2 separate regions of the Homo sapiens genome follow, and region 1 is linked to region 2. Evidence: fine-mapped expression QTL. Tissue or cell type: hypothalamus. Region 2 holds a variant in brackets; the other region holds the start of a gene. All regions are shown on one strand. Distances are from middle to middle.

Evidence for each region. PIP is the estimated chance that this variant, and not a neighbour inherited with it, causes the effect.
Region 1: CRTAP starts here. The variant in region 2 is fine-mapped to the expression of CRTAP in hypothalamus (GTEx, PIP 0.95).

What each region holds. Positions count from the first base shown.
Region 1 is chr3:33,110,110-33,118,212 of GRCh38, reverse strand. CRTAP (cartilage associated protein) reads right to left here and starts at 4,199. Exons shown (of 7, transcript NM_006371.5): 1 at 3,665-4,199. The coding sequence starts at 4,135. RefSeq lists silencers at 1,765-1,913, 3,440-3,629, 4,070-4,369 and enhancers at 2,497-3,488, 6,369-6,578.
Region 2 is chr3:34,066,683-34,074,785 of GRCh38, reverse strand. No RefSeq gene overlaps it. Among named protein-coding and RNA genes, the nearest start is that of LINC01811, 89 kb to the left of the region's middle. The variant C/T (reference allele first, on the strand shown) is at 5,087.

The sequences.
Region 1 (8,103 bases), 960 kb after region 2:
TCGAGGTGGGTGGATCACGAGGTCAGGAGTCCAAGATCAGCCTGGCCAAGATGATGAAACCCCATCTCTACTAAAAAGACAAAAATTAGCCAGGCACAGTGGCAGGTGCTTGTAATCCCAGCTACTCGGGAGGCTGAGGCAGGAGAATCACTTGAACCCGGGGGGCGGAGGTTGCAGTGAGCCAGGATCGCACCACTGCACTCCAGTCTGGGTGACACAGTGAGATTCCGTCTCAAAAAAGAAAGAAAGAAAGAAAGAAAGGAATAGAAAGAGGGGCACAGAGTAGGATTTTTAAGGCTTCTAACTTAGGATGTTTTACAAAACGGAATCTCTTCCTGAAGAGAAAAGAGTGATTTTATTTACTTCAACTCAGGCTCTGCAGCTGGAACATGGAGACACATCTTGGCTACCAAACCTCTGACAGACCCCAGGCAGATTTTGGAGAAGGTGGTAGGGATGGAGGGAACCACCTTGCCTTGGGTTCCTGAGATACAGCCACCAGCATGAGCCACCCTAAATCAGCCATGACACAGAGGCAGGCCCTGTGGTTCCGGGGAGTTAGAGGCCACAGCCAGGCAAGGCCTGGGGTTAACAGTGCCTGTGAGTCAGTGTTCTCTGTCCAGGTTAGAGCTCAACAGTCATTAAGGATTTGATGAAGTGCTCCGGCCTACTTTTTGCTTGGCCTATGAGAAAAATGAGTTTTTCGTGGAAGATGGTAATTGTGGAGAGAACCCAAAGAAAGCTAATGACATGGACCTAGAGTAGGCTGGTGACGAGAAACCTATGATGCACCTGAGGCTGCACACCAGTAGCACAGCCCTTTTCTACAAGAGCACACATCCAAACCTCCTCGCCTCCCTCTGGCAGTCGGAACCCACCATTGCTATTCCAGTGATCAATTGAGGCATTTCTCCTTAATCACTGAAACAGAGAACTGCAACTCAGAACAGCAGAGTAACATTTATCCATGTCCTGCCACAGCGCACTATCTACCTTCATATCGACCTCCAGCCTTCAGGTGCCAGGTAGAATGTATGTGCCTGCCACCCATCTTTTCCTCTCTATCCATAAACAGAGTTTAAACACGTAAACATCACTTTTTTTTGACACAAGAGTCTTGTTCTGTCACCCAGGCTGGAGTGCAGTGGTAAGATCACAGCTCACTGCAGCCTTGACTTTCTGGGCTCAAGTGATCCTCCAGCCTCAGCCTCCTGAGTAGCTGAAACTAGAAAGGCACGCCACCACACCCGGCTAATTTTTTAATGTTTTTGTACAGATGAGATCTCATTATATTGCCCAGGCTGGTCTTGAACTCTTGGACTCAAGAGATCCTCCCACCTTGGCATCCCAAAGTGCTGGGATTATAGGCATGAGCCATCATGCCAAGCCATAAACATCATTGAGAAAAAATACACCATACAATATCTCCACCAAAAATTACTTTTTCAGTTATATCTTCCATTGAAACAATTAAGTAACATTCACGTTTATTAATAAAATTCTTAGCTTTTTCCTGCCCTATATGAGATCTCAAAATGTTAAGATGGTGGCCGGGCATGGTGGTTCAAATCCCAGACTGTAATCTCAGCATTTTGGGAGGCCAAGGTAGGTGGATCACTTGAGGTTAGAAGTTCGAGACCAGCCTGGCCAACATGGTGAAACCCCATCTCTACTAAAAATACAAAAATTAGCTGGGTGTGGTGGCACATGCCCGTAATCCCAGCTACTCAGGAGGCTGAGATACAAGAATTGCTTGCACCCTGGAGGCAGAGGTTGCAGCGAGCTGAGATCGTGCCACTGCATTCCAGTCTGGGTGACAAAGTGAAACTGTGTCTCAAAAAAAACAGATAGATAGACAGATAGATAGATAGTATTTTACTGACTTTCAACTAAGTGATTGTTACAAGACCTGTAAAGGGTTTTGAAGAGAAGCTATGACCATCCTAACCTTTTGGGGCCACCATGATGAAAGAGAAAACCCATGCCTTTTGGTCACATTGAGTAAAATGTTCTTCCCCTCTTCCCTGTAACACTTGTTCAAATTCATCTGTATATTAAAGAAATCAGAGGTTCTAGTATTCTCTAGGTTTAAAAATAAAATGATTTCCTCTTGATTATGTGACCTAAATTTGGTTCAGAACATATTTGCCAAAAGCTATACAAAAAAAGAATTAGATAAGTCATTTTTAGCTTAAAAAATGATGCTTTGTATGAACCAGCCCTCATTTTCAACATTCTGGAATTTTATTAATCTCATTCCCTGCTTCTGTTTTAAAACTGTTTTTTTTTAATTGCCAGAACAAACATTCACAAAACTGATACTTTAAATAAAACTGTAACTAAGCATAGAAGTATAGAAGTAACCCAGCTTTTCCCCTCTTTGGGGTTTTGTGTTATTTTATTGCTCATATAAATACAATATACACGTGGCTCTGTCTCGGTGGAAATCTGAAAAAACAGATCTTGCAGTCCAGAAACTGAAAACAAAGTTTAAAAACAAAAACCTTCTACCTCAAGAGTCTAGGATATGCCATGAATCTATTTTTGTAGTAATTTTAAAAAACACAATATATTCCTTTTAAAATCTTTCTCAGAGAAAGTAGAAACTGGGCTTTGAGAGGGCTCTTTTAGCCAAACCCTGTGAGGACCCACCAAGCTAGAGCCTCTTTATCTAGTGACAGGGAATCTAACCATTCTTAAAACTTGTGGGTCCTCGGAGTGAGAACCCATAGGATAGAGAACTGCAATTTGTGGCTATTTTTAGCCAGCAATCACAGAGAGAACTTAAGCAGCCATTAAAAGGAGGCAGTGAACTGTGTTAAATTCTAGATGAAAGAGAGAAACAGCGGAGAGGGCCAATCCTGATGACTCACGGTGCACGAGTTCCCCTTTAAGCAGGGATGTGTCCTTGCAAGGAGTCCCTGCCCTTCCCTGGCCTCAATTTCATCCTCTTTAAAAGGAACTAGTCAGCTGGGTGCAATGGCTCACGACTGTAATCCCAGAACTCTGGGAGGCGAGGTGGGAGGATCACTTGAGTCCGGGAGTTCGAGATCAGCCTGGGCAACGTGGCGAAACTCTGTCTCTACAGAAAATACCAAAAAATTAGCTAGGTGTGGTGGCGCGCGCCTATAATCCCAGCTACTCAGGAGGCTGAGGTGGAGGATCACCTGAGCCTGAGGAGGTCAAGGCTGCAGTGAGCCATGATAGCGCCTCTGCACTCCAGCCTGGGCGACTGTGAGACCCTGTCTCAACAAAAAATAAAAATAAAAGGTACTTGTCGGCTCCTCAGGTCTTCTGCTTTATTATCGCAAGTCACCGCTCACTTGAGAAAAAAGGCGACTTTAATGGTATATACAGAAAAGAGGCGTCTGCCCTCAAATAACAGAGAACATTTATCAGGCACTTTGTTGGGTGCCTGGCGCTGTACTGCGTTCTGTGTACGTATTCTCTACCTTAGAGTTACCCTTCAAGAAAGGCATTTTCATCTCTAGTTGAGATGAAGAAGGAGACAGGACTTGGAGGAGACCTTTGGCAGGGCTGGATGGGAGGGAGCCAGGTCTAGAACTGGAGGGGCAACGCGGCCCCGGGCGCAGGGGCGGGGCTAGGGCCTGGAGGCTGGGTCAGGGGCGGGGCCGGGGCCTGGGACGGGGCGAGGCGGACTTGCCTTGAAGTAAGCGAACTGCAGGAACTTGTAGGGCTCGCGGCGCTGGAAGTCCGCCAGCACCTCGCGGCTGGGCTGGGACTGGCGGAAGGCTGGCAGGCCCTGCTTGCAGCGCTTGAGGCAGTGCGCGCGGCGCAGCAGGCCCCCGAAGAGGCGCAGCTCGGGATAGCTGGCGAGGCCGGCGGCGGGCTCGGGCTGCGGCGCGGCGCTGCAGTTGCGGTGGCAGAAGGCCTCGCTGTCGCGCAGCAAGCGGTGCAGCCGCAGGCTGATCTCCAGGTAGCCCACGCTCTCGGCCCAGTGCTCGCCGCTGTACTTGTCCAGCGCGTGCCGGTAGGCCGACTCGAGCGGCATCAGCTCGTCCCGTGGGAAGCTGCGGAAGCTGTAGCGTTCGTATTGGGCGCGCCCGGCGCGCAGCGCGCAGGCCACGCACAGCAGCGCTAGCAGCGCCGCGGCCCCCCGGCGCCCCGGCTCCATCGCGCCCGGCGAAAGGAAGGAAGGAAGGGACGAAGGAAGGGAAAAGGGGAGGGAGAAGGAAAGGAAAGAGGACGGTGCGACGCGGCGGGCCCAGTGCTTTCGGGGCGGGGACGCCAGCCTCCGGCCCGCCCCGTCCGGCCGCCCCTCCCCACCCAGCCGGGGGATCTGGGCGCCAGCTGCCAGCACCTAGAGGGTGCCCGGGAAAGGCGCGCTGCGCACTGGTTCACGCAGGCTGATGCGCATGATGGGACTCTGCCGCTCATTCACTTGGAGACCCGCCTGCAAGGCCGACGCGGCCCTAATAGATTATATACATCGGCCCTACGGTCTATATAATCTACGATCTTTATATTCGTTTGGAGGTTTGTGAAAACGAAGATTCCTGGGCTGTGCCCCCAGAGTTTCTGATTCAGAAAGTCTGGGGTGGAGGTCTGACGATTTGTGTGTTTAACCAGCACCCTGATGAGGCTAATGCTGCGGGCCCAAGGGCCGCACTTTTAATAGCACTGCCCAACCTTAAATTTTAGTGAGAGAAAAAGACAGTGCAAAAATAAAATTAATAAGGATGTCAGCACTTTGTAAACTGTATAGCTAGTCAGGTTGAAGATGTGCACACCTTATGAATCTGCAACACCATTCGGTGGAATATGCTGGAGAAGCTTGCGCGTGTGCATCAAAAAATATGGATGGAATGTTAATGGCAGCACTTTTAAAAAATCTTTAAACTTTTAAATCTTGAAATAATTTACAAGAAAGCTGCAAAAACAGTACAAAAAGTTCCTATATACCCTTCATCAAGATTCACAAGTTGCTAACGTTATACCACATTTCTATCTTTACATTTTTTTCTGACTCATTTGAGATAGGTTGCATGTATCAGGCCCACTGTCCGTTAGTCTTTTTTTTTTCTTTTTTTTTTTCCTTTTTTTTTTTTTGAGACGGAGTCTCGCCCTGTCACCCAGGCTGGAGTGCAGTGGCGCGATCTCGGCTCACTGCAACCTCCGCCTCCCGGGTTCAAGCAATTCTCCCTGCCTTAGCCTCCCGAGTAGCTGGGATCATAGGCACACACCACCATACCTGGCTAATTTTTCTATTTTTTACTAGAGATGAGGTTTTGCCATGTTGGCCAGGCTGTTCTTGAACTCCTGACCTTAGGTGATCTACCTGCCTCTGCCTCCCAAAGTGCTGGGATTACAGGCGTGAGCCACCGTGCCCAACCCCTTAGTCTTTCAGTATGTATGTCCTAAGAATGAAACTACCAGACAATCAAATTTAGGAAATTTAATACTGATAGAAGACTTTAATCATGTTCCATTTCCGGTTATGTCAGCTGTTCCAATTATGTCTTTCATGGCACTTTTTTCTCTTAGGATGCAGTCCATCCGTGATCACTGTTACATCTAGTCTATTTCATATCCTTTAAACTGGTTCCTCGGCTTTTCTTGTCATGCCGTTGTCATTTTTGAAAAATATAGGCCAAAACAGCAATGAGATACCACTACAAAATCCAAAACACTGACAACGTCACATGCTGACAAGGATGTGGAGCAACAGGAACTCTCATTCATTGATAGTGGCAATGCAAAATGGTACATACAGTTTAGAAGACAGTTGGGCCGTTTCTTACAAAACTAGGCATACTCTACTCATACAATCCAGAAATTGCACTTCTTGGTATTTACCCAAATGGGTTAAAACTTATGCACACACCTGCGAATGGATGTTTGTAGCAACTTTATTCACAATTACCATAACTTGGAATCAACCAAGATGTCCTTCAGTGGGTAAGTGGATACATAAACTGTGGTATATACACACAATGGAATTTTATTCCAAGCCAAAAAGAAATGAGCTATCAAGCCATGAAAAGACATGGAGAAGTCTTAAATGCATATTACTGGTTGAAAGAAGCCAAACTGAAAAGGCTACATACTGTGTGATTCCAGCCAAATGACATTCTGGAAAAGGCAAAACTATGGAGACAGTAAAAGGATCAGTGGTTGCTGAGAATTATGGAAAGGGAGGAATGAATGGGTAGAGGACAGGATTATTGGAGCAGTGAAACTATTCTATATGATAGTATAATGGTGGATATATGCTATACATTTGTTAAAATCCATAATATGTACAACACTAAGAGTGAGCCCTAATGTAAACCGGACTTTGGGTGATAACGATGTGTTGATGTAGGTTCATTGATTGTAACAAATGTACCATTCTAGTGCAAGACATTGACAGTGGGGGAGCTTGCGCATGTTGTAGGGTCATGGAGTATATTTGAACTCTGTAGTTTCCGCTCAGTTTCGCTATGAATCTAAAACCACTCTAAAAAATAAAGTCTTTTTTTTGTTTTTTGTTTTGTTTTGAGATGGAGTCTCGCTCTGCTGCAGAGGCTGGAGTGCAATGGCATGATCTCAGCTCACTGCAATCTCCACCTCCAGGGTTCAAGCGATTCTCCTGCCTCAGCCTCCTGAGTAGCTAAGATTACAGGCCCGTGCCACCATGCCAGGCTAATGTTTGTATTTTTAGTAGAGACTGGTTTCACCGTATTGGTCAGTCTGGTCTCAAACTCCTGACCTCATGATCCACCTGCCTCGGCCTCCTAAAGTGCTGGGATTACAGGCATGAGCCACCGCGCCTGGCCTTTTTTTTTTTTTTTTTTTAAAGAACACAGGCCAGTTAACTTTATAAAAAGTTCCTCATTTGAGGTTTTCCTGATGTTTCCTCATGACTAAATTCAGATTAAGCTCATGACTAAATTCAGATTAAGCTCATGACTAAATTCAGATTAAGCTCTTTGGCTAGAATGCCACAGAAGCAATGTGCCATCCGTCTCAGGTGTAAAATCTAAATAACACAATGCCCACCCCTTGTCTGTGTTAATTTTGATCACTTTATTAAGGTGATGTCTGTTTTCCCTACTTCATTTGTTTTCTTTTGTAATTAACAAGTGTCTACAGTAAGGTAACGCAACATTGTTCTTAATGGCAGAAAGCAGGAATAACCTGTCCATAAACAGAAGAGTAGATTTAAAAAAAAATGAGAGTAAATGCATATAGAAGAATATATTATAGCAGGGAAAATGAAAGAATTAGAGCTACAAATAACAGTTCAATCTGGGGGCGGGGGGGAACCATTGAGAATGATTCCATTTGCCTAAAGTTTTTTTGTTTGTTTGTTTTTTGTTTTTTGTTTTTTTTTTTTTGAGACAGAGTCTCGCTCTGTCGCCCAGGCTGGAGTGCAGTGGCGCCATCTTGGCTCACTGCAACCTCTACCGCCCGGGTTCAAGCGATTCTCCTGCCTCAGCTTCCCGAGTAGCTGGGATTACAGGCACCTGCCACCACACCCAGCTAATTTTTTTTTTTTTTTTTTTAAGACTGAGTCTCACTCTGTCGCCCAGGCTGGAGTACAGTGGTGCGATCTCGGCTCACTGCAACCTCTGCCTCCCAGTTTCAAGCAATTCTCCTGCCTCAGCCTCCTGAGTAGCTGGGATTACGGGCGCCCGCCACCACAGCTGGCTAATATTTTGTATTTTTAGTAGAGATGGGGTTTTACCATGTTGGTCAGGCTGGTCTCAAACTCCTGACCTCAAGTGATCCACCCATCTCGGCCTCCCAAAGTGCTGGGATTACATGCGTGAGCCACTGCACCCGGCCTGCACCTGGCTAATTTTTGTAGTTTTTAGTATAGACAGGGTTTCACCATCTTGGCTAGGCTGGTCTTGAACTCCTGACCTTGTGATCCATCCACCTCGGCCTCCCAAAGTGCTGGGATTACAGGTGTGAGCCACCACGCCCGACCCTAAAGTTTTAAAATATGGAAAAACACACAATGTATTATTTAGGAGTAAAAATAATATAGTCCTACCTTATACAGGGTAAAACTATATTGAAAAGAGAATGATAGGCTGGGCGCGGTGGCTCACACCTGTAATCCCAGCACTTTGGGAGGCCAAGATGGGTGGATCA
Region 2 (8,103 bases):
AGCATGTCCTGCAAGACTCATTGTCTCTCTGTGGAAACCTTCCCTGGAAAACACACACACACACACACACACACACACACACACACACACACACACACACAGAGAGAGAAAGAGAGAAAGAGAGACTGAGTTAAATTCTTCCCTTCACGTGTGAAAACAACCATCCTAGCAATTACTACCCTCAGATGGAAAGCGTCTGTAGATGCACCTGTCTTCCCCACCAGGCACCAAATCCTTGGAGTAGGACTGTGTTTGTTCATCACTCTATTTCCAACATTCTATCTAGTACATAGCTTTCAAAAGGTATTTGATAAATAAGTAAATGAATGAATGCACAATAACTTTTCAGAGAAAGAAATTTCCAAATCTTTGGGAAGCAATCAAGGACAGATTTGGACTAGTAGGGAAGGGAGGAATGCTTACATGTACTGGCTCTAGAAGTCTCTCTCCCTCAGGACAAGTCAGTGACCTTTCAATCAGAAAGAACATAACTTGCTAAGCATTCAAACAGATCCTCACATTGCAACTACCCAGGGTCTAGCAAACCACCTGGCAGATGGCCTAGGACTTGGGTTAATTGTCCATGGCCAATCAGGTGTGGACCTGAGACCACACAACCAACCCTGGCCACACCTATTTGCTAGCAGCTTTGCCAAGGCCCTCCAGTACTGGTCTTGAACTACATGTGGTTTTTCTTCCTCTATTTCACAGGTTCCACAATGCACACTACTAATTTTAGTTTAACTTAATGCTCATTAAATTAGGAGCCAAATCCAGCTCTTCACTCAGCCTCCTCTCAACTCCCAGCCCTAGAGGATGCCGCTTTGTTGGATGATAACCCGGATCTCCCTCCTAATTGCTGCATGAGTCCTAAGCACCTGTTCTTTATGCATTTCGTGAGACATTCTCCAATTAAAGCCTAGGAGACTGATGAAAAACAAAGCCCATCTTCAAGTAGAGAATTATACATTCAACAGCAATAGCAATACTAGGTCACAGGATGGGTCATTAAATCACTGAATATACACCTCCAGTGCAAAAAAAAAAAAAAAAAAGACACTCTTCTGAAACATTTATGGCTGAGATTTAAAACTACTGGAATTGAGACATTCAGAGGTAAGGGTCTCAGAACAGCTTTCCGCCTGGCTCTGAGGCCTCAGCTGAGAGCCAGGGAAAGTAGTTTTCATCACTCTCTAGGTAATACCCAGGAAAGAAATTTGTCTTAAGATGCTAGAGCAATCTGTGTGGCTTCAAGGTGAGGCTAGCAAAGAACATTTCAATGAGTATATTTACTTCCTCTTCTAAACTTTGAATAATAATTGTAATCTGAAGAGAAGAGGAAAGGCCTACTTAGCAGCAAAACAAAACTTTTGTCTTCTTTTGTGTCTTCACTGTGTTTGCAATGTGGCATCAGTAAAATGGCCTTAATGCTCAGCATGGCTCCCATTCAAATTGAGACAGCAATTCTGCACTCTCATTAGGTGAAAAGTTGGCCCCCTAGATTAAGCTACATGACATCCATATTTCTAGTCATCATTTCCCTATCACCACAACCACCTGGCAGTGCTCTACCATCCCTTTTGCCTTGGCACAGTGTGCTTTTGTCTTTTCACTAGCTAACACATGTAAGTACAAAATTTATTTGCTTTAAGATGCAGGACAAGAGAAGGTAAATTCAAGCAATACCATTGATGGCTAGATATCTGGCAAAGCCCTCCAGGGCTAGAGTGTGCCAAAGACAGACAAGCTTCTGTAGGAGGAAACAAAAGGAACTTCAGACCTCTGACTGTAAGCCAAAAGCTTCTGCTGCCCCACAGTAATCCCACCTGATATGCATGGATGAACCAGGGCTAAAATTAGTGTGAAAATGACAAAGAAACCAACAAAAGAGGAGTGTTTCATTTTCTTACCCAGGTCTTGTTCAGAATATGCAATGGGAGAGCCTGGTTGGGAGCAGTCCAAGCCCTGGCTCCCCACACTGGTTGGTCATGAGGACACCAGTAAAGCTCCTAAGGACCTTTGGTTGTATGAGTCCTTCCTTTTCTCTTCTCCATATGACTTTTAAGACCCCAAAAAGTCACAGATACTAAATAGGGTTGCGGTACCACTCATCCTTATTTGTGGATCTTGGGAGGAAGATCTTTCAAGCCATTTCCTGCCTTAAAATTGGAGATCTCTAGCCATTCTTGAATACTCCAAACCAGACACAGGTCAAGTGCCTACTCATGGAAGCTTCCTTTTCCAGTGAGAGCAAAATGGAAGACTGGTGTAATGAGCTGAGCAATGTAAACCTCCACAAATGACTCAACCCTGGAAAGCCAAAGACAATTCAGGCAGAGGCTTTTTTTTTCACCCCCAGTCCAATTAACCATAAAATTACTTCAAATCTCCATTTCACTTTCTACTCAGATATGTGCTCTTTTTGCTCAAGGTTTCAGGGAGGGAGGGTCAGTTTTCTCACATTATTAGGCTGTGCCCTTTGGACGTCAGAATTTCCAGAGGTGAGAAATGACAACTGTTCCCTTATCCTCAAATAATCCCTGCATCCCACATTTCTTCCTCATACTCAGCAGAGTACAAGACATGCAATTTGCTCCTTCAGTCAACCAGGAAAATATTCTGTGGCTGCCTAGAAAGTGGGGCATGGGGAGGTGATATTCATCGAGCACTAACAAAATGCCAATCACCGTGCTGGTACCTTTACTCCTTTACCTTACTAAATCTCACAACAATGCCAAAAAATAAGACTTATTGCCCCACTTTACAGATGAGAAAATTGTATTCGAGTGTCCCATCTCCCTCCCACTGACAGCGGTGGAACTGGATGGTGGTCTGAAGCAGCCAGTGCTGGGGGTGAAGAGACCTCCTCCTGGATGGCTTACAAATTGTACTGTGATTTCCAAAACTCACTTAAACTCCCTGTTGGAGCTATTAATATTATCAGTTCTCCTAAATTGGAATAATTTTGTCTGTTCATCCTCTCCCCCTTTCCTGTTTCCTTGTCCTGTGGTGCTGCTGAATTAGATAATGTCTACAAAGCTCTCTGAGTTCCTTGAAGGGAAGTTTTGATAAACACAAGTTATTAACCTTCATAGCACCTAGAGTTTTGAATGAAGAAGTTATAAAAATTATCATAAAGTCCTGCTGGGGCTTGATAATGAACAGAAGATTTACTAAATCTTCAAACACTTCCTTTTCTTCCCAAGAGCAAAGGTGAATCCTTCCAGCTAGAATAGGCTCTATTTCCAATGCTAGTCCCTGGCTCTTCTGTCTTCTGATGTAAGGGAAGGTCAAATGCCTCTTTCCAGAGCCTTCTGCAGTGGCTTCATGGAAATTCTGAACAGCAGGTGCCTGAGGCTTCTGAACAATGCAGCCACATCATTCTCTGGCTTTCATTCCCCAGGTGCAGCTGAAACGATAATGTGACAATGCCTGCCAGGAAAGAAGATGCCACTGCTGAGAAGTCAAGACCCAGAAATTCAGTATTCAAGAGGAGTCTCATTCCTCACCACCCTGGCTCTCCTCATACAGACAGTGTGATTATCGTGGGTCACAGAAAGACCTAGTTTTGTCCACCAAAGCAATACAGGCAAGTGTAAATCCAGCTGTGCCTCTCCTGAGGCTGTGCTGTGAGTGCAAGAGGGGAAGAGAAGGGAAGGGGAGAGCTAATGGAGATGCTCCACTGCCTAGGCTGGGTCTGGATTACTCAAATGCTGAGCCAGAAGCAGAAATGGAAGAGAAGGGTATGACTCAATGGCAAAGTCATCTCGCGATCGACGACCTCTACCACATTCCTTGCCTTAACCTTCAACTTTGCTTTGGGTTCACATTGTGCCAACACAGACAGTGGTTATTGGACATCTCCATACCCAGCCCAGTGCTCAGCAAGCCCAGTAATCAGGTACCAGTGGTGGCCACAGAAGAACCTGGCTACCTCCCCTGCCTTCTAGGTTCTGTCAAGCAGCTGCAAAAATCAACTGAAGGTGGGGGTGTGAAGGAGGGCACCTATCACCACATCAGACTAGATGGGTCTGACCTCCCAGCACTAACTGCCAAAAACCTTGTTTGTATAGAACCTGTCTGCCCTTTGGGAAGAATGGCAAAGTGCAATTTTTGAGACTAGTAGGTGAATTCCAGAACACCAGAATGGAGAATCCTGAGAAAACAGAAAGAACAAAGATGCTTCCTGCCTGTGGAAAACAAGAAACTTCTCTGGAGAAAGAGGAGGTCTGAACTGAGGAGGCTGCACTCTTTTCTGAAGCATTTGTTTGAGGTTGGCAGAGCTGACCACTTTTGAGAGCAATGTTTGTAAATGCCCCCAACCGCCTCTCAGAGCAACTTGGCCTACATTCCTTGAGAGAGAGGAAGCTATAAAAAATATCTAAGCTGGTCATGGTGGTTTACACCTGTAATCCCAGAGCTTTTGGAGGCCAAGGTGGGAGAATCACTTGAGCTCAGTGAAACCCCTTCTCTACAAAATATACAAAAATCAGCCAGGCAAGGTGTGTGCCTATGGTCCCAGCTACTCAGGAGGCTGAGGCAGGACTATTGCTTGAATCCAGAAGGCAGAGGTTGCAGTGAGCCAAGACTGCACCACTGCACTCCAGCCAGGACACTCGAGTGAGACCCTGTTTCAAAAAAAATTCTAAAGATCTAAGTCTTTCCCTTTGGGAGCTACAAAACTTAAGGGAAGCAAATCCTTTGCCAATTAGATACCAACTAGACCTCCCATAGTTTCCTAAATGGGGTCCCCAGGCCCTGTCACAGAGATTTTCCCATAGAGTGGCTATAGGAAAGCTTTATTAGTCTCCAACAAAAATGCAGGTGCTTTAGAGGTAGAAGGAAATTGGGAGAGCCTAGCCATTTTACCTGAGAAGGCTGCACAGTCAAAGATCATTGTTGCTAACCTTATGTTCTGCTAACATGGGTTGTGCTATGTGACTTCAAACACAAACAACTTATTTTCACTACGTTTATGATTATTATTCATCCTTGCCTAGGCATGCTAAATTCTAAGAATTTTGGAATCACACAGATGTGATTTCAGTGCTTATCTGGCCTTTAGCAAGGTGATTTGCCTCAGTTT[C/T]TTCATCCATAAAATGAGGGGTAGTAATAGCACCTATTTATAGGGACATTGTGAAGTTTGGCTTTGTTAATTACACATAAACACCCCAACACAGTGCCTGACACATGGCAAGCACTCAATAAAGGGTAGTAGCTCTAATTAGTGACCAAGCAATAAGTGAGACAATACTAACAGGATGAAAGAAACCTGGAGGTGGAAGAGAGATGGAAAGCTGAGACTTTCCTTCTCTGGGTGAGGAGGGCAGCCCTTTAAGGTAGAAAAAAAGGATGACCCAAAGTCACAAAATATACCAGCCTAGCTATGTGGAAGATGAGCCAGGCCAGGACAGAGAGGGTTAAGAAGGAGAAGAGGCAAGGCTGCCTTGCAAAAAGACCTTGAACTTCAGGCAGAAGGCTTGGACCAGCTACAGTGGGTCATGGGAGGCCCCTGCTGGTGTCCAGGCTTTGGACCACCTGTATTCGCCAATGGACAATGATGCACAGCCTGGGATAGAAGGGCTCACTTCTGTGGCACCACCCCTCCATCCTCTCTTTGGCCCTCCTCACAGCAGATGGAGCCCTTAGAACACTGCCTACCTGAGCTACAACTCATCCAGGCACAGGAGGACCCCAGGAGGCTGTGAGAGTCCAAAGCCGCAAGGTCTGCTCCTAGCAGAAGTCTCACACATCTGAAGACCCTCAAGTTGCAGTTTGTTCCAAAAAGGCTTGCCAAAATGCCTTTTCTGAAACACCAGCCCAGAGAGTGGGCCTATGCACTTCTTCATTAACTACACAGGGTACCTTGAAACCCCCACTCCTGGAAAAGAAGCCCATTTTTCTCAACCTCCAATAAAGAAAACCTTCACATATTCAGAGAAATGTCCTGCAGATGAGGGCGCTCAGGAGGGGGCCGCCTTGATTAAAGCAGGTTGTTCTGCCAAGAAGTCTTGAATATGCTCTCTTAGTTTGGGGCTGTTAGTGCAGCACGGAGGCAGCAGGCGACATGAATTGCCTTTTATCTAATTGGAAAACTCCCACCGAGTTTAGAAGTACTCATTTAGACAGGCAGATCAATAAAAGAAATGGGAAGCGGAAGGCCGTGGAGATGTTATGGAGACAAGCTGGTCCTCTATACATCTGCTTAATAAAGATTAACTCATCTTGGTTGTAGTAGAAACCCAGAACACCCTCTTGGCTCCAGGTTGTAAGCAGGTTCCATTTGTTTTTAATGTGCAGACATTTCTCAGGAGGGATGGGAGAGAGACCCTTCCTTTGTCTTCTCTTTATCTGGATTCAAGCGCTCCAGTGGGAGGGAGGGCAAAGGAGGGAAGAGGGGCCTTAGAAATAGACTGTTTCTAGCATCTTCCCAAAATGATATTCCTTTGACCCAGACAAAAGTGAAAGGGAACAAAACGTAGTGATCCACAGAAAAAGGGCAGAAAATGGGAGAGAGGCACCTGAGGAAAGATGTAATTCTCCCTTGTCATGTCATATCATTTTACTGTGTATAAGTCACATTACACAATAGCAAACATTTCACGAGCTCCTGTTTTAAAAACTCCATCGAAATCCTTTTTTCTCCCTATCTCTCTTGTTCATCATTGAGTTAGGGGCTCTAAAATCTTTTCCATATTCCCACATCACGACCCTCATAAGCTTTATCCATCCTTGTCCTTGCCATTGTCCCAGCTCTCTCCCAACCCCGCATTCTACACACAGGAGGCTTAAACAGCTGAGCCCATCTCTCATTTCAAACATAAGCTTTTGTTCCAGGCCACAGCATCAAAGCTGATTCCCTTCAAAAGAAAAATACCCTCTGTGGCTATAGGTCCAGAAATAGAAGTGGTGTGTGCCTGTGTGTGTGGGTGTGCCTACGTGTGCATGTACGTGAGGCAGGCTGAGGGGGGTTCATTTACACTGGAGAAATTTTGAGAAACCTGGGAACCCTGTGTTTGACTTCTGTGTCCCTTCTTTGAGTCCTGAAGAAATTCCTCTCTTGGCAAGGGCTGCAGGAGGGAAACTGCTGGCACTCAGCTTTAATAAAGGCCTTTTCTCTTGAACAGTACTATGGCGAAGGCACAGACTCATACCTGGGCCATGGGTCGGTTGCCATGGAAATGACTGCAGAATCACAAATAAGACAGTATTATGTTTTCTCAGCAGGGCCAGATACAAGCTAGAAACTAGAGGGAGAAAAAGGAAGAGGAGGAAGAAACAGAGTCAGAGGCAGCACCAGAAAGAGAGAGACGGCAAGAAAAACAATAGAAATACCTTGTATAAATAGAGGGCCAGAAAGGAAACACAAATAAAAGAATTGGGTATTGTTTGGAAGAAAGCAAATTTCAGACCGTGTGAGATGAGAGAAGGGAACAAAGTGTTGTTTTCTTTGAGGCACTTCCTTCATTTTCAAAGAGGGAAGGAGGGAAACCCATTCCAAAGGGACTCCTGCGCACCTCCCAGCCTTCTACTGGCTTTTTTCTCTCCTATCTTATTGGGTAATGGTGCCAAAAGCCTGTGGTGGAAGGGTTGGGAATGGGAAGAATACAGAGTGGTGCAGGAAGCAAGAAAGGGTAGGAGGCAAGCCAAGCCCCAGGATGCAGAAAGGCTGTGCTCTGATTCTCAGCAGAAACTTGTAGCCTTTTGGTCCCTGGCTCCCTAGCAAGTTTTATGCCAAACTTTTGCCCTTCTAAAAGCCATAAGCCCTTGAGGATCACTGGAACTGCTCTCAGCACCCTTATTAATATTTTTCTCCCGAGTTGAATGTGGCTGGAGTACGAGTGGCCACATTGTCTTCCTAAGATCTTTTTGTTGTTGTTGTTCATTCAAAGCTTCATTGGTTTCTTTATTGCAGAAAAAAAGTCTGATAACCAAGACCTAGATTGAGACTTCAGAAACAAATACAAAGTACAAAGCTTATTTCAGCTAAACTATGAGGCTTTACATACAGTAAAGAATACTAAAGTTCTGCCCTTTCCATACCATGTTTTTAATGGATGTGTATATGTAGATTTCAATGTGCTCAATGCTTTGGAACAACAC